Regions from separate parts of the Homo sapiens genome. Here region 1 is linked to region 2. Evidence: fine-mapped expression QTL. Tissue or cell type: whole blood. Region 2 holds a variant in brackets; the other region holds the start of a gene. All regions are shown on one strand. Distances are between the middles of the regions.

The links. PIP is the estimated chance that this variant, and not a neighbour inherited with it, causes the effect.
Region 1: CEP41 starts here. The variant in region 2 is fine-mapped to the expression of CEP41 in whole blood (INTERVAL, PIP above 0.99). The same link has a PIP of 0.9 or more in blood mononuclear cells.

Annotation. Positions count from the first base shown.
Region 1 is chr7:130,436,078-130,444,260 of GRCh38, reverse strand. It overlaps CEP41 (centrosomal protein 41), which reads left to right and starts at 3,245. Exons shown (of 11, transcript NM_018718.3): 1 at 3,245-3,327. The coding sequence starts at 3,295. It overlaps LOC105375505 (a long non-coding RNA gene), which reads right to left and starts at 2,507. Exons shown (of 3, transcript XR_927973.3): 1 at 1,573-2,507; 2 at 1,372-1,491; 3 at 1,035-1,158. RefSeq lists an enhancer at 2,805-3,559.
Region 2 is chr7:130,385,783-130,393,958 of GRCh38, reverse strand. It overlaps CPA1 (carboxypeptidase A1), which reads right to left. Exons shown (of 10, transcript NM_001868.4): 9 at 8,036-8,120; 10 at 5,851-6,135. The coding sequence ends at 5,948. CEP41 (centrosomal protein 41) reads left to right here. Exons shown (of 11, transcript NM_018718.3): 11 at 1-188. Among named protein-coding and RNA genes, the nearest start is that of CPA1, 9.4 kb to the right of the region's middle. The variant T/A (reference allele first, on the strand shown) is at 4,293.

The DNA of each region.
Region 1 (8,183 bases), 50 kb before region 2:
CATAAAAGTATAAAGAATAAAACAAATATCCACATTCCATAATCCAAAGATGGTTTATATTTTTGATTTTGCTTTCAATTTTTCTCTGCAGATACCTGTATTTTTCTCCATGCAAATCAGGATTATATTAAATAAAAAGTTGTTTCTTGCTCTTTTCATCTACTGTATCAGGAACAGTTCTCCACTGCCTTAATTATGCCTTGAAACATACTTTTAAATGATTCCATAAGATTACTTTGTATAGATATGCCAGCATTTATTTTAATCATTTTTAAATTGATGATCAATTAGATTGTTTCAATTTTTATCATTTTAAATATACTTCCAGTAAACATCTATGGATGTAATGTCTGTACATTTGTCCAATTATTTCCTTAGGAGGAATTCTTAGCATATTAAGATTTGAGGACTTCTCAATACCTACTCTCAAATTATTCTTCAAAATGATCATGCTCCTTTATATTCGCACTAACAATATGTGATCATGTTGTTTCATGAATCATTAGCCAGCACTAAGCATTATTGTTAAAGAAAAAAACTTTTGTACATTTGATAGTTGAAAAATGGGATCTAGTTATCTTGCTCTGTATTTTTTTTTTTTTTTTTTTGAAACGGAGTCTCGCTCTGTCGTCCAGGCTGGAGTGCAGTGGTGTGATCTCGGCTCACTGCAAGCTCCGCCTCCTGGGTTCACGCCATTCTCCTGCCTCAGCCTCCCGGATAACTGGGACTACAGGCACCCGCCACCGCGCCTCGTTAATTTTTTGTATTTTTAGTAGAGACGGGGTTTCACCGTGTTAGCCAGGATGATCTCAATCTCCTGACCTCGTGATCCGCCAGCCTCCCAAAGTGCTGGGATTACAGGGGTGAGCCACCGCGCCCGGTGCTCTGTGTTTTTTTGATATGTTTATTGGATGTTTTTCTTTTATCAGTTATCATTTTGTACCATTTGCCTATTTTTTACAAATAGAGACACGGTCTCACTGTGTTGCCCAGGCTGGTCTTGAATTTTTGGCCTGAAGTTATCCTCCTGCCTTGGTCTCTCAAAGTGCTGGAATTACAGGCGTGAGCCATTGCCACCACCATTTGCCTATTTTTTCAAAGTAAGCACTTGGCGTTCGTTTTGATCCAGTTTTGGCATAGCAGGATCCAAAAGGAATCCTAAAGAGAAATACATGATGTTAAAAGTCTTTTGGTTTATAGCTTTAAGCTTTCCAAGGATTCCATTGAGGCCAAATGTGAAGGAAAGGGGTGACTCTTTTAAAGGAGAGTCTCCTTGGACCACAACACCCCCCGCTCCCCACCCGCCGGCCAGAATCAGAATTGAGGGATTGGGGAGGGAACATGTATTTAAATTACCCCACCCAGACACACAGACACACAGTCAGTTGGATCCAAGAACCAGCCGGGTTCTATAATCTCTCTATAATGCTTCCTGTGCAGTCCAAATGTGACAACCACGATGACTAGTGAGGCAAGTAAACCAGATGTTCTCTGGAACAAAAGAGAGACAACCGTACAAAGAAGTGAGCCAAAACACTGAAGAATGGAAGTTGAATGGACTGTTGGACCTACTTGTACTTTCTGCTGTTTTGGCTTTTTGACTGTTGTTCTTTAACTTGATTAATGCATTATCGCCCATCTACTCAGTTCCTCAAGTTAGAGAAACTATAGCCATCTTTGATGAATTTCTATTCCTTGCACCCCTTACCTCTTCTCATGTATACTATTGATTTTACCTACACGTCTTTAAATCTCTCCTTTTCTGTCTTTCTCACCACCTCTGAGTGTAGTCCCCTATCATCTCCCTCTCTCCTTTCCCGTTATTCTATCCATAATCTCTATGGTTACCCACAAGGTGCACCAGGTAAGCATACATTCTAAATACTAATGAATCTAGAAGTTTCTGCTTGCTATGCAAAAGCTTCTAGATTAACATTCTTCCCTCTGCCTCCTTCCAATTTTTTGCAGCCTTCAAACCCTTCCTTAGCAGAGGAGTGAGAGACTGAGAATTTTAGAGGGGTTAAAGAACTGGCAAAGATTATGGAAATTAAGACAAAACTTAATAAACATGAAAGAGTGACATGAAAAGTCCAAGAAGCAGCTGTGGCCAGAATTCAAAATTCTGGTCAAGCAGCACTGACTGGCAACATGATCCAAGGTGTAGCCCTAAGGTTGGGTTGCTGAAGTGCCTAAGAGAACAAGGGCATGTGAGGCCATGTTGTTGAATGGGTCATCTCACAGACCCTGAAGTAGCTCAAATGTGTGCTATTATTCACTAACAGACAACTGGCGAGTATGAACTGCTCAGAGTAACCTTTCTCCATTCCTGGAAAAACAACTTAGAGCAAAGGACAAAGGGTTACTGTGTTGTTCCTTTCATGTAAAAGGAAATAATAATTTTGATGGATTTGGTGGGACATTTAGGAGCCAAGTCAAACTGTGTGTGTAATTGTTTTGTAAAGGTGCTAGGACTTCATTTTCAGATCCGGAATGGGAACAGGTGGTGGCTGGTGGCAGGAGTCACAATGGTTTCCATGACGACGGGATTGGGTCCTAGTCATCCTCCCATTCTCCACAAGACCTACTGCAGCTTTTCTCATAAGGTGCTTATTAAGTATTTGTTAAATGAACGATGAACCACAGAATAGCGCGTGTGCTTTGCAATTAAGGATGTCGCTCTATAGCTAGCCTAAAAGCTTTTAAAGCACCGATAATTACTGTATTTACCCATGTATTTTGCATAATTCGCATATTAACTTAACCAGAAAATAATAAACCATACTCTCCCATTTCTGCTGAACAACCCTGGCCCATATAATATTCCCTGTTGTGGAATCAGTAGCCCAGATGTTTGGTTGAAACGGCCATAAAACGGAGCTGGGGGATGGGGAGTCTTGTGTTGTATTTATGGTTCCACATTAGCTAAAACTCGTGTTTTGTCCCGGCTCTCAAGCCACTGCCCCCGCCCCCGGCTTTGCGCAGGCGCCAGCCTTCCCCTCCCCCCGCGCCTCTCTTCCCGCCCTAAGGCTGGAGCCGGCGAGCCCCAGCCCAGAGAACAAAAGGCCTCGCTAGCCGGCGTCCCGCGTTGCCCTTGGCAACCATTGAGCGGCGTCTTGCCCTTCTGCGACCCTGAGATGAGAGAGTAAACGGGGCCCCCATTGGCCGGCCGGGGAAGACGGGCCAATCGGAGAAGAGGGTATAGGGAGGCGGCTGAACAAGGTTGTGGGGGTAGGAAGCTAGGGTTAGAGGCAACCCGTGAGGCTAGAACCCCGAACGTGGTCGGTTGGAGAAAATATGTCCCTCCGGAGGCACATTGGGAACCCTGAGGTGAGGGCCAGGTCTCGGCCGGAGAGCCGGAGGGGGCGGGCGCACCGGAAAAGGCTCATGTGGGCAGGGAAGAGCAGCCAGCGACTTCCGCCGCCCGGAAGGCGGGAAGGGGCCGGCGTGAGGAGGGGTCGGGATGCAGGGGCGGGGCGGGCCGGGCTTGGGGGCCGCGGGGCAGCGTTCAGGACCCCGTTTTGAGGAGCGATCTCTCCCCGCGTACGCACGCCAGTACTTGTGACTGCGAGGAGCGAAGTACCCAAAGACACAGCCCTTGCCCTCAAATGGCTTACAGTCTCGGAGTGACAGTTACAAAACAGAAAAGACAAAGGAAGCGCTGCACACTAATGGCACGTGTTGAAAGCCAGCCAGCATCTCTGATTGTGGGGATACAGGAAGAGCAGGAGTAAGCTGACCAAACCTTTGGAAAACGGGCAAAATAGGACATTAGGCTTACCCCTCTCTCCATAGGACCCTTCAGTTTCTTCATCTGTTTCACCGCTAGTCCCCTGCTGCATTTGTGGCAGTTTCAACAAACGTTATTGGAAACTTCCACGGTGCAGTAGGTGCTAGACGTACAAAGAAGACAAGGCCTCTGCCCTTTAATAAATTGCGTATAGTGGACCAGGCGCGGTGGCTCAGCCTGTAATCCCAGCACTTTGGGAGGCCGAGGCGGGCGGATCACGAAGTCAGAAGTTTGAGACCAGCCTGGCCAACATGGCGAAACCCCGTCTCTACTAAAAATACAAAAATTAGCCGGGCGTGGTGGTGAGGCGCCTGTAATCCCAGCTACTCGGTAGGCTGAGGCAGGAGAATCGCTTGAACCCAGGAGATGGAGGTTCCAGTGAGCCGAGATCGTGCCATTGCACTCCAGCCTGGGTGATAAGAGCGACTCTGTCTCAAAAAAATAAAAATAAACAATAAATAAATTGCGTCTAGTGAAGGAGCCTGTGAACAGAATTTGAGTACAGTGTGGTCGGGGAGCAAGATGTTACGAGAAAATAGGTAGTACTCAACTGAGGGAGTGAGAGAAGGGTTGTGGAGATGGAAGGGGTGGCAAGGCCATTCATTAGCCAGGTGAAGCATCATCCCGGGTAGAACAGCCCAAGTGAAGGTAAGGAGTGTGTGAACTCAGAACAGGCCCCTGTAGGAGTCCAGGCTTTCTCTGCCTTGCTGAGGTTCTTAGCCTTTATCCCAAATAGGAGTTGTAACTGTTTCATCTCTTGGTGGCTGCCTGGTACTAGGCTGAGAAAGCTGTAAGGCTGAGTCTAAGCCCTGCAAGAGAGCCATGGTCAATTGGTAATGTCTAAATGCTGCATGATCTCACTTATACGTGGCATCTTAAAAAGTCCAGCTCATAGAAGTAGAGAATAAAATGGTGGTTACCAGAGCCTGGAGGGTGGGGGGAAGGAGGGCAGAAATGGGAAGATGTTGATCCAAGGGCACAAAGTTACAGTTAAACAGGAGGAATGGTTTTTGAGATCTCTGGCACAGCATGGTGACTATAGTTAATAATAATTACAGCAGACTCATAACCCCCAGTAGAAAATCCATGTACAACTTTTTACTCCCCTCCCCCCTGCAAAAAAACTTAACTACTAATAGCCTACTATTGACTGGAAGGCTTCCTGATAACAGAAACACTTGATTAACATATTTTGTATCTCATATGTATTATGTACTGAATTCTTAAAGTAAGCTGGAGGAAAGATTATTATTAAGAAAATCATAAGGAAGAGAAAATATATTTACTATTCATTAAGTGGCAGTGTATCATCATAAACATCTTCATCCTAATTGTCTTCATTGCTAAGGGGCAAGGAAAAGGAGGGGTTGGTCTTGCTGCCTTAGGGGTGACAGAGGCAGAAGAAAATCTGGGTATAAGTGGATCTGCACAGTTCAAGCCCATGTTGTCCAAAGTTCAACTATATTGTAGATTTCAAAATAGAGTAAATTGTATATTTTATGAGAGTAAATTTCAAATATCTCACCTCAAAAAAAAGATAAGTGGGTTGATGGATATGTTAATTTGATTTAATCATTCCACATTGTGTGTGTGTGTATATACCAAAACATCAAATTGTACCCCATAAATGTATAAAGTTATGATTTGTCTATCAAAATATTAATAAAAATGTTAATATTGTGTATCATGGGGGTGGGAGAGATAGGTGAGGAGAATGGCAGTTTGCCACATATTTATCTTGTCTGCTGGTCAGGATTTGAGAAATTTTTTGAGTTATTAAAGGAGTGACATGGTCAGATTTGCATTTTAGGCAGATGGCTGTAGCTACATTGTGGAAGATGGGTTTGAGGAGGCTCCAGGACTGGAAATGAGATTGGTTAAGTGGTTACTATTTTTTATTTATTTATTTATTTTTGAGACAGAGTCTCACTCTGTCACCCAGGCTGGAGTGCAGTGGGGAGATTTCAGCTCACTGCAACCTCCACCTCCCGGGCTCAAGCAATTATCCAGCCTCAGCTTCCTGGGTAGCTGAGACTATGGCGCACACCAACAAAGCCTGGCTGGTTTTTGTGGATTTTGTAAAGATGCGGTTTTACCATGTTGCCCAGTCTGGTCTCAAACTTTTGAGCTCAAAGCCACCCGCCTGCCTTGGCCTCCCAAAGTGCTGGTATTACAGGCATGAGCCACCGCGCCCTGCCAATAGTTACTATTTTGATAGAGATCTAAACTAAGGCCATTGAACTAGGGATGGAATCGAGGATAAATATTTACGGGGGCAAAATCATCAATACTTCCTGATTAGCTTTGAGAGATGCGTGATGGGTGACTTAAGTCTCAGCTTAGACTACTCATTGGTGCTGGCGCCATGAGTGAGATCAAGAATATGGGAGAACGAAAAGGAGGAATAGTTTTAGGAGTGTGGGGGAAGAGGAGCAAGTATGTTCCGTGTGGTTATGTTTGTGCCCGAGACAAAGATGCCCAGTTTACTCTCTTGTTTGAATAGAGCACAACTTCTAGTAGTTTCTTAAGAAAGAATTCATAAGAAATAGTTTTAAAAATTTATGTCTAAAATGTTAGGCATGTCTAAAAATATTCTTATTCTACCTTAACATTTATTTGCCAGTGAGTTTGGCTGAGTATAGAATTATTGGTTGAAAATCATCAACATCTTTTTTTTTCTTTTTCTTTTTTTTTTTTTTTTTTTTTTTTGAGACAGTCTTGCTTTGTCACCCAGGCTGGAGTGCAGTGGTACAAACATGGCTCACTATATCCTTGACCTCCTGGGCTCAAATGATTCTCCCACTTCCTGAGTAGCTGGGACCACAGGTGTGTGTCATCGTGCCCAGCTCATTTTTTTGTATTTTTTATAGAGATGGGGTCTCCCTATGTTGCCCAAGAGGGTCTTGAACTCCTGGGCTCAAGCAATCCTGCCTTGGGCTCCCAAAGTGCTAGGATTACAGGTGTGAGCCACCACACCTGGCCATCATCAGCATCTTGCAAAACATTGCTTAGTGGTCTAGTGTCTTGTGTTGTTGTGAAGTCCAAAGCCATTCTCTTGCTTTGTGACTGAATTTTCCTCTCAGGAAGCTTGTGGAACCTTTTTTTTTTGTCCCCAGTGTGACTTTACAAAGATATTTATATTTTCACTCATTTTGATAGGCACCAGAAATTTATGTCTTTTTAGTCTGAAAATTTTCTTAACTTTCTCTCTCCTATTTTCTCCATCCTCTTTTTCTTGAATTCATTATTCTGATGTTCTGTATTCATATAGATAACCTATATGACTGGTTCTCTGATTTTCGTAACTTTCATCTCCTGTTTCCCTCATCTTTGTCTTTCTGCTCCCTTTGGGAGATTTAATTTTTATCTTCCAATCCTTCATTTTAGTTTTTAATTTCTGCCATCATGTTTTTAATTTGTTTGTTTGTTTGTTTTGAGATAAACTCTCACTCTGTTGCCCAGGCTGGAGTGCAGTGGTGCGATTTCGGCTCACTACAACCTCCGCCTCCCAGGTTCAAGCGATTCTCCTGCCTCAGCTTCCCAAGTAGCTGGGATTACAGGCACCTGCCACCACGCCCAGCTAATTTTTTTGTATTTTTAGTAGAGACGGGGTTTTACCATGTTGGTCAGGCTGGTCTTGAACTCCTGACTTCAAGCCATCCACCTGCTGCCTTGGCCTTCCAAAGTGATGGGATTACAGGTGTGAGCCACTGTGCCCAGCCCATGTTTTTAATTTTTAAGAGCTCTGTTTTTTGCTCTGTTGTACTTTTAAAAAACGTTTTATTTCAAAATAAGTATAGATTCACAGGAAGTTGCAAAAAAAAAAAAAATAGTACAAAGAAGTCCTATGTATCCTTCACCCATTTTCCCCAATGATTATATTTTACATGAGTACAGTACAGTATCAAACTAGAAAATAGAAATTTGCACAATGTATGTATAGTTCTAGGCCATTTTATCACTTGTATAGATTTAATCAAGATTTACATATATGTAGATTTGCAATCAAGATAAAGAACTATTGCATCACTAGAAATATCTCCAAGCTACTCTTCTGGTCACACCTACTTTCTTCCCTCTCATCATCCTAACCCTGGGTAACCATCTCCATAATTTTGTCATTTTGACAATTTTACATAAATGGAATCATACAGTATGTGACCTTTTGAGATTGGCTTTTTTTTTTTTCACTCAAGATAATGTCCTTGAGTCGCATACAAGTTGTTGCATGTAGCAGTAGTTCATTCTTTCTGGTACCTGATCAGTATTCTGTGGTATGAATGTACAGCAGTTTTTTTGTTTTGTTTTGTTTTGTTTTTTGAGACGGAGTCTCACTCTATCACCCAGGCTGGAGTGCAGCGGCACCATCTCAGCTCACTGCAACCTCTGCTGCCTG
Region 2 (8,176 bases):
GTCTGCTGTCTTATCTTGAAGACAGGTGCTCCAGGGCTTCCGAGGTTATTTTGTCTGTTAATGGACACCTTGCAAAGTACCACTTAAGGAATGAGAATTACAAACTTTTAATTATATTGTAGGGGGAAAAAAGTAGGCTGTTTTCCTGATAGGTCTAGCCATTCATTCAGTAAACCATATTGATATGATTTGTGCCTGATCTTTTCTTTCCTTTGTGGTGATGTTTCTGATTTCGGCTGAAACATAAGTTGCATGAATTGGCGATGGCCATAGGCCTGAGTTCCCGGGGGAAGCAGAGGCAAACCTCCTTGCCCCAGTCCTTGTCAGCAGAGCCCTTATTCTACTGCACTCTTCTAAAAATGTAGCCAATACCACTACTGTGGTTAAGCAGAAGACTTTCCATTTTCTCCTTTTAGTTTGGCAATAAACATTTGGCAATCCCAGTCTCTGAGGTTGTTGGATGATGCTCAGTGTTTGAGTTGCCAAATTAATGCAGATCCTGAAAGCTTTGGGGAATAATTCATTACCCTTTGACAGTTTTTTAGATTTGACGATGCATGCTCTGTGCTTTTCTGAGAGCTTCTCCTTGATTTGGCCAATTTGAATGTTACGGTTAGTCATATCAGCTTCATCTGAGTAGCATCTGGGTCTTAGTGTGTTCACAGAATGATGTTGCTGTAGTCCTTAAAGCAAGAGTCCCTGTGCATCTTCAAATCCACCTCATCCCACTCGCCCTTGCAAAACAATTGCCAGGGTGATGAATCGCCCCGCACTGGATGAAGGACCAGTGAGGTCATATCTGGATTGTATTCAATGACATTCCCATTTTAACTTTAGGCCAAAGACAGAAAGCTAGCTGTGCATATCTGAGTGTTAATTCAAGAGGCTACCCTAAGGATTCTCATAGATCACCAATATTGGGCCCACAGGCCATTAGAGAACCATATGTAATGGTCTGAGTAAAAAGTAAAATGAGTTCATTTGAAAATAAAGATTTTCAAAGGCCCTGGGGAATAGGCATTAGCATAATCAATTCCCAAGATAGCTACAAGAACTGAATGTGAGCAGGAAGGGGTTTTGGGAATTTTCATCAAGCTACAACAAGGGGTAGGATGGGGAATGGCCCCCAACTGCATGAGCTGAGTAATCTCTTCCTTTGGTAGAAACACTGCTGCTTCCAGCTGTATCTTGGAGTGTGAATTTTTCTGAAGATAAGACAAACTGCAGCGTTCCGGGCAAGATGATGAAACATTATACCGGAGCAGAAAAAAATGAGTTTAGACAAATCAAAAGAATCTGAGTAAAAACTAAGATGGCCATTTAGCTGTTTGATGTTGATAATACACCGATGTTAGGTAACTTTACACACATGTTATCTACTGTGTTCGAAATAGCTCCCTTCACTCCCTGCCCGTTATAAAAGCTGATTATAGAAGCTCATTGCGAGAAATGCTGAGAAGCATAAAAAGGAAAACTACCACCACCACTACCCAGGTTAATCATTATTATTATTGGGGGATATATCCTTCCAGGAAGAGAAAGAGAAGGAGAGAGAGAAAGCATGTTTGTGTGTGTGTGTGTGTGTGTGTGTGTGTGTGTGTGTGTGTGTGTCTTTTAAACAAGATGGGATCCAGACTCAATATTTTGTATCCAGCTTCTTTTTTAAAACAACTGTATTGTATAAATCACATACCATAAAATTCACCCATTTTAAGTGCACAACTCAATGATTTTGAGTTAAGTTTACAGAATTGTGCAACCATCACCACAATCCAGTTTTATAACATTTCCATCTTATAGCCAGTTTCTTTCACTTAGTATGTTGTGAACATTTTTCCATGTCAACACAGCCCTTAATGGTGTCGTGTTGTTCCAGTGTGTGGATGTGTCAGATCAGCATCAAGACTGGTAATTATCTAGGTTTTTTGTTTTTTACTTTTCCAATCTTGTACATACATATTTTTGAATCCATCCAAATATTTTTATAAAGTAAATTCTTCCATGTGGGTTTTCTGGATCAAAGACACAATACATTTATAATTTTGATTTATATTGCCAAATTTGCCCTCTGGGAAGGTGGTGCCAGTTTCTGCTCCACCAGCACTACATGTTAACACTGGAGTCATCAGTCTTTTTATTCTTTGCCAATCTGATGAGAGAAAAATATCTTCATTTCTCCTTAATGAACAAGAAATCACTTAGAGGATCAGTGTCTTTCATACATGTATTGATTTGTGTTTCTTCTTAGTGGAATTGCCTATTTTTCTTTTGAAATGTTTGTCTTTTTCTTTAACCCTTTTTATTATTTTAACCCCTCAAGGTTATTAATACTTATTTTCATATCAATACTTTCATTTTTAAGTTGCAATATTTTCCAAAATTGTCTTTTAGGTTATTAATACTTATTTTCATATCAATACTTTCATTTTTAAGTTGCAATATTTTCCAAAATTGTCTTTTAGGTTATTAATACTTATTTTCATATCAATACTTTCATTTTTAAGTTGCAATATTTTCCAAAATTGTCTTTTAGCTTTATGTTTTTACTTAAGAATTTTAAGTGTCTTCACCCATAGATTTGTAAAAATGTGTATCTACAAACAAAATGTAAATCTCTTCCCATACTTGAAAGTACAAAAAAAAAAAAAACCAACAACTTTCTTGTCTCCATTTAACAAGCATTTATTATTTTTTAATATATTTCTTTCTTTTTTTTTTTTTTTTTTTTTGAGACAGAGTCTCCCTCTGTCACCCAGGCTGGAGTGCAGTGGCACAATCTTGGCTCACTGCAACCTCCACCTCCTGGTTTCAAGCAATTCTCATGCCTCAGCCTCCCGAGTAGCTGGGATTACAGGCATGCACCACTGCCCAGCTAATTTCTGTATTTTTAGTAGAGATGGGGTTTTGCCGTATTGGCCAGGCTAATCTCAAATTCCTGACTTCAAGCAATCTGCCCACCTCAACCTCCCAAAGTGCTGGGATTACAGGCATGAGCCACCACACCCAGCCTAAAATTGTTTTTTTTATAGAGACTGGGTCTCGCTGTGTTGCCCAGGCTGGTCTTGAAATCCTGAGCTCAAGCAATCCTCCCACCTCAGCCTCCCAGAGTATTGATATTACAGGTATGAGCCACTGCACCTGGCCAAGCATTTATTATTATTGATATTAATACCAATATTATTACTGTGTGCTGTGCACTTGGCCAAGCAGTGGGGGTTAAATGGTGAACAAAACAAAGCAATCCTTGCCCTTGTGCAATTGACATTCATTCATTGACTTCAGCTTTCTTAAGACTTACTCAACTCTGGGAATTCAAAATAACTTGCACAGGGTGTTTTCAGCAAGCCTACAACATACAGATCATAACATTTATGAATTCACTAATAAAAGTAGAGAGCATTCACTCAACAGGTATTTATTAGGCATCTATGTGTCAGGTACTGTTAACGCTATTGGGGATTGAATGCCAAACAAGGTGGTTCCTGCTGTCGGGAAGCACAGTTTATTTTAAATTAAGCAATTCTACCATCAAAGTCTAGTGCTCCAGTTTTATAAAGTGATAAATTGTCATGCTAACTTAATATTTCTTCTCTTATCAGTCTTCATTAAACAAAAGGTGATCAGCTTCCTACTCACTCAAACTAAGCAGTTAAAATGGGTTTTGAGAAGAGAGTTATAATGTCGTTATATAGATTGAAGGGAAGCATTTTCTAAAAGATAACTTGAAGAGGGTGTTATCAAATCTTTTAGGTCATCTTTCTGTAAAGACTGAAACACCATTTTACCTCGTCTCATAAATTTACATGTTTATACGTTTATGTAAATGATATAATGTAATAATGTAACAAATACATACAAAATGTAACAATACATACATAGAGCCTCATCCTTTTTTTTTCTTTTAAGAGACAGGGTCTCACTTTGTTGTCCAGGTTGGAGTGCAGTGGTGCCATCATGGCTCACTGCAACTGCAAACTTCTGGGCTCAACGGTTCTTCCCACCTCAGCCTCTCGATTAGCTGGGATTACAGGTGCATGCCACCACACCCAGCTAATTTTTTATTTTTTGTGGAGGTGGGGGGGGGGGGTCTCGCTATGTTGCCCAGGCTGGTCTCGAACTCCTGGGGTCAAGGAATCCTCCTGCTTCAGCCTCCCAAAATGCTGGGATTACAGGTGTGAGCCACTGTGCCCAGCCCTCATTCTTTTTATTTTTATTTTTAGAATGTTGATAGCAAAAATAATAATAAAATAAAAGTCCAAGATGAAAATTCCATCAATGTTCCTCTTTTTTTT[T/A]AAAAAAGGCATTTTTGGCCTTCAGGCCATTTTATATGGAAAAGACTCAAGTCAACAGAGCTGGATGCTTCTTGAAACCTGGCCTGGCTGCTAGAGAGAGAAGCTGCCATCCTCACTCCAGCCCCAATCCACTCACTTCCCCAGCAGAGTCTGTGGGAAAACCCCCTGCTCCACATTCACACCTGAAGTGATATGGAAGAAACAAAGGGAGATTCTTTTTTCTTTCTTTCTTTCTTTTTTTTTTTTTTTTTTTTTTTTTTGAGATGGACAACAAATTTCATGTCTCCATTTCACAAGCATTTATTATTTTTAAATATATTTTAATTTTTTTTTGAGATGGAGTCTCCCTCTGTCACCCAGGCTACACTACAGTGGTGCAATCTCAGCTCACTGCAACCTCCACCTCCTGAATTCAAGGGATTCTCCTGCCTCAGTCTCCTGAGTAGTTGGGATTACAGGCATGCGCCCCCATGACCGGCTAATTTTTTGTATTTTTAGTAGAGATGGGGTTTCACCATGTTGGCCAGGCTGGTCTTGGACTCCTGACTTCATGATCTGCCCACCTCAGCCTCCCAAAGTGCTGGGATTACAGGCGTGAGCCACTGTGGCCAGGCCAAAAGGGAGATTCTTGCTTTGAAACAAGTTGGGATATCTTATGTAGTCATGCTAGCTGCTAATTGTAATATCACTTGCATCAGGATCACCAAGCTGAAGAAGGGAAGCTAAAGCCTAGGAGCTGTGGTCTCAACAGGAGAATGGGAAGGAGTGGGGTGGATGGAAACACGAGGGAGCAGAACCATGTACCAAAGACGCTGGGAAGGATGTGGCAAATGAAAAGTGGGTGATTTCTATCCCTAAAGGCAAAATCTTCAGAATATATAATTAATTTATACAGTTAATAAAATATCTTGGCCAAATGTGATGGCTCACACCTGTAATCCCAGGACTTTGGGAGGCCAAAGCAGGAGGATTGCTTGAGCCCAGGAGTTCAAGACCAGCCTGGGCAATATGGCAAAACCCCATCTCTACCAAAAAAAATTAAAAATTAAAAATGTCTTGGGATTGGCCTTTGGATTGGTTCTTTATCTGCAGTTAATGATTTTATTTAACCCAATTGTTTTCTTCCAATTTGATTCCGGAATGGAAGATGATATTTTGCTCTTTAGTAATCTGTTTTACTTGGCTGCAACATCTATTTTGGACAGCAGTGGCCACCTGGATTATTATATTTCATCTTCTAGGTTGTTGCTTTTATAGATGAATGGACACAGCTAGCTAGACCTTTGTACACGCCGAATTCCACACCACTGTGGGGTGCCGGGCATTTGGTTAGCAGCTGTTGCTGCTGCTTGCTACTAAGGTATGAACAAATCATCCCACTGGTGAGCTGAACTCAGGGTGGTCTAATTAAAACAGACGCCACTTGGATACGACTTCACAGGATGTTGGAATGCAGGGGAATGTAGGGGTCATCTAGTCCAACCACCCACACATTTCCAGTGAGGCCTGCAGGAATTAAATCACTTTTGCCCCAGCTTGAAGAGGCAGACACTCCACATGCAAGCCCCAGGATTCTGTTCCTGGTACACTCAAACTTTATTTGGTTGCCTGGATGGGGCCAGAGAGGAGGACAAGAAGGGTGTCAAAGGGTCAGCTCAGTAGGGGTGATTCAGGGTGTGCTCCATGATGGTCAGAAGCGCCAGCCACGTCTCCTTGGCTGTGGGGATGATCTGGGAGGCTGGCAGCAGGAAGCCATAGCGCCCAGTGTCCCGGAGCTCGAAGGTGAAGGAGTACTTGATGCCCTGGCTGTAGGTCCAGTCAATAGTGCTTCCACTGGCTTGATCTGGGGCAGGAGTAAAATAGGAGAGAAAGGGTCAATCACTTTGGGAATATTTACACGGGTTGGGTTAACGATCCAACCCTGTCCAAAGCTCTGTGCCTTGTGCAATGCTGAGTGGAGTCAGTGTCTACTAAGGTCTGCTGTTGACCAAGCAGCCTCACTTCCAAGAAACTCCCACTAAAAGGTCTAAGCCAAGAGGTCCAAAGAGGAGACCAGCAATGGTTCCCCTATTCACTAGGGGATGCAAGGAAGTCTCTGCAATTGCACAAGCCCCTCTGAAAACAGCCTCTGTCCAACAGCCCTTTCGGTGAAGCCCCTAAATATACCGAGTTCCCTGCTTGGGTAACCAGGATTTGTTCCCCTGGGGCTCTGGTCTGTGAGGGGGAAAGTGCAAAGAGCCAGAGTCAAAGCAAAAGCCCCTTGTCTTTCTTTTAGGAGGAAACTTTGCCCGGGAAACTGTAATTAACAGTGGGTAATGAAGCCACTTTTGAATTGGCCCAGGAGAGAGCAGTAGGCTGCATATCAGAATTTAACTTGACCATGTTGAATGAAGCAAAACCTTGACTCAGAGTTGAATCAGTTTCCAAAGAAGGCCTGGAGTCCAAAAGTGAGGTCAACCTTGGATAAGATTGTGACCTGCTTGCCCACCAAGGCCTAGGCACTCAGGCAGGAAGCGTGTGAGGTGTGTACGCAGCCCTGCCCCCTCAGCCTTCTACCCAGCTTTGACCTTCACTTACTTGGAGGCAGCCACACCAGTCTTGTTGTTCCAGCAACATCCCCGGCCAGACCACACTGTAGAGCCTTTGCTCTAGAATGTTCCTCTGCCTGGAAGGCTCTTCCTAGCTGGATAGCCTCCTGGCTGCCACCTCCTCCACCCACTTCCTTCAATAGTTGCCCAAATGTCACTCTGTCAATGAGGCCCACCCTTCAACCCACCTGCCCCACCTCCACCCCCAGTGTTCCCGATTCACCTCACCTGGTCTAGTTTTAGTTTTCCTCCCCAGCATTCGTCACCTCACATACTGTATCATTTACTTATTTATGTTCATTGTTGGTCTCCCTGGCTAGAAAGTTCCCTGATCTTTGCTTATTTCATTCATGGCTATATCCCAAGTACATGAAACAGGGCCTGGTGTATAGTAGGTGTTCAATAAACATTTGTTGAGTTAATTCCATTTTGATTCAGTAATGCTCCTCTCAGGGGCACTGCATGAATAAGTAAGTGAGGAATAAATCAGGCCTATTGTCTAATTGAGGGGCACTGGAGGAGAAGTGGTTTTTGTTTTTGTTTTTTTGACATGGAGTCTCGCTGTGTCGCCCAGGCTGGAGTACAGTGGCGTGCTCTTGGCTCACTGCAACCTCCACCTCCCGGGTTCAAGCGATTCTTGTGCCTCAGCCTCCCGAGTAGCTGGGACTACAGGCGCACACCACCACACCCAGCTAATTTTTTGTATTTTTAATAAAGACGGGGTTTCACCATGTTAGCCAGGATGGTCTCTATCTCCTGACCTCGTGATCCGCCCACCTCAGCCTCCCAAAGTGCTGGGATTACAAGCATGAGCCACGGTGCCCTGCCCCCGAGAAGTGTTTTTTTAAGTTGAATTTCCTGGTGATCTGCAAATCCCAGCAGGACTCTCCACCCCATCCAACCAAGAAACTAGACTTGGCCCCAACACAAGAGGACAAGAGCTGTCAGAGGAATTCACATTTGTCTGAAAGTATCAAAGGAAGCAGAGTTCATGTCAGGAAAAGGGACTGCCCACCCCTCAGAATAGCCCTTGCCAGCAGTTGACAGATCTGGGTGCCCTTGGCTACTTCCTTCCATGAGGGATACTCCCTCGGTCAGGAAGAGCCAGCAGATGTTCCTCGCAGGCCCATCAAGAGAGACCCTACGGCCACTTACAAATTGCCTTGATGATGCTGCCATAGTTGAACTTGGTCCCGTAGAGAGAGGCCAGGGCTGTCACAGCAGCCTTGGAAAGCTGATCCTGGACAAAACACCAAGCAAAGCCACCTGTCATGGCCAGGCTCCTGGAACAGCATG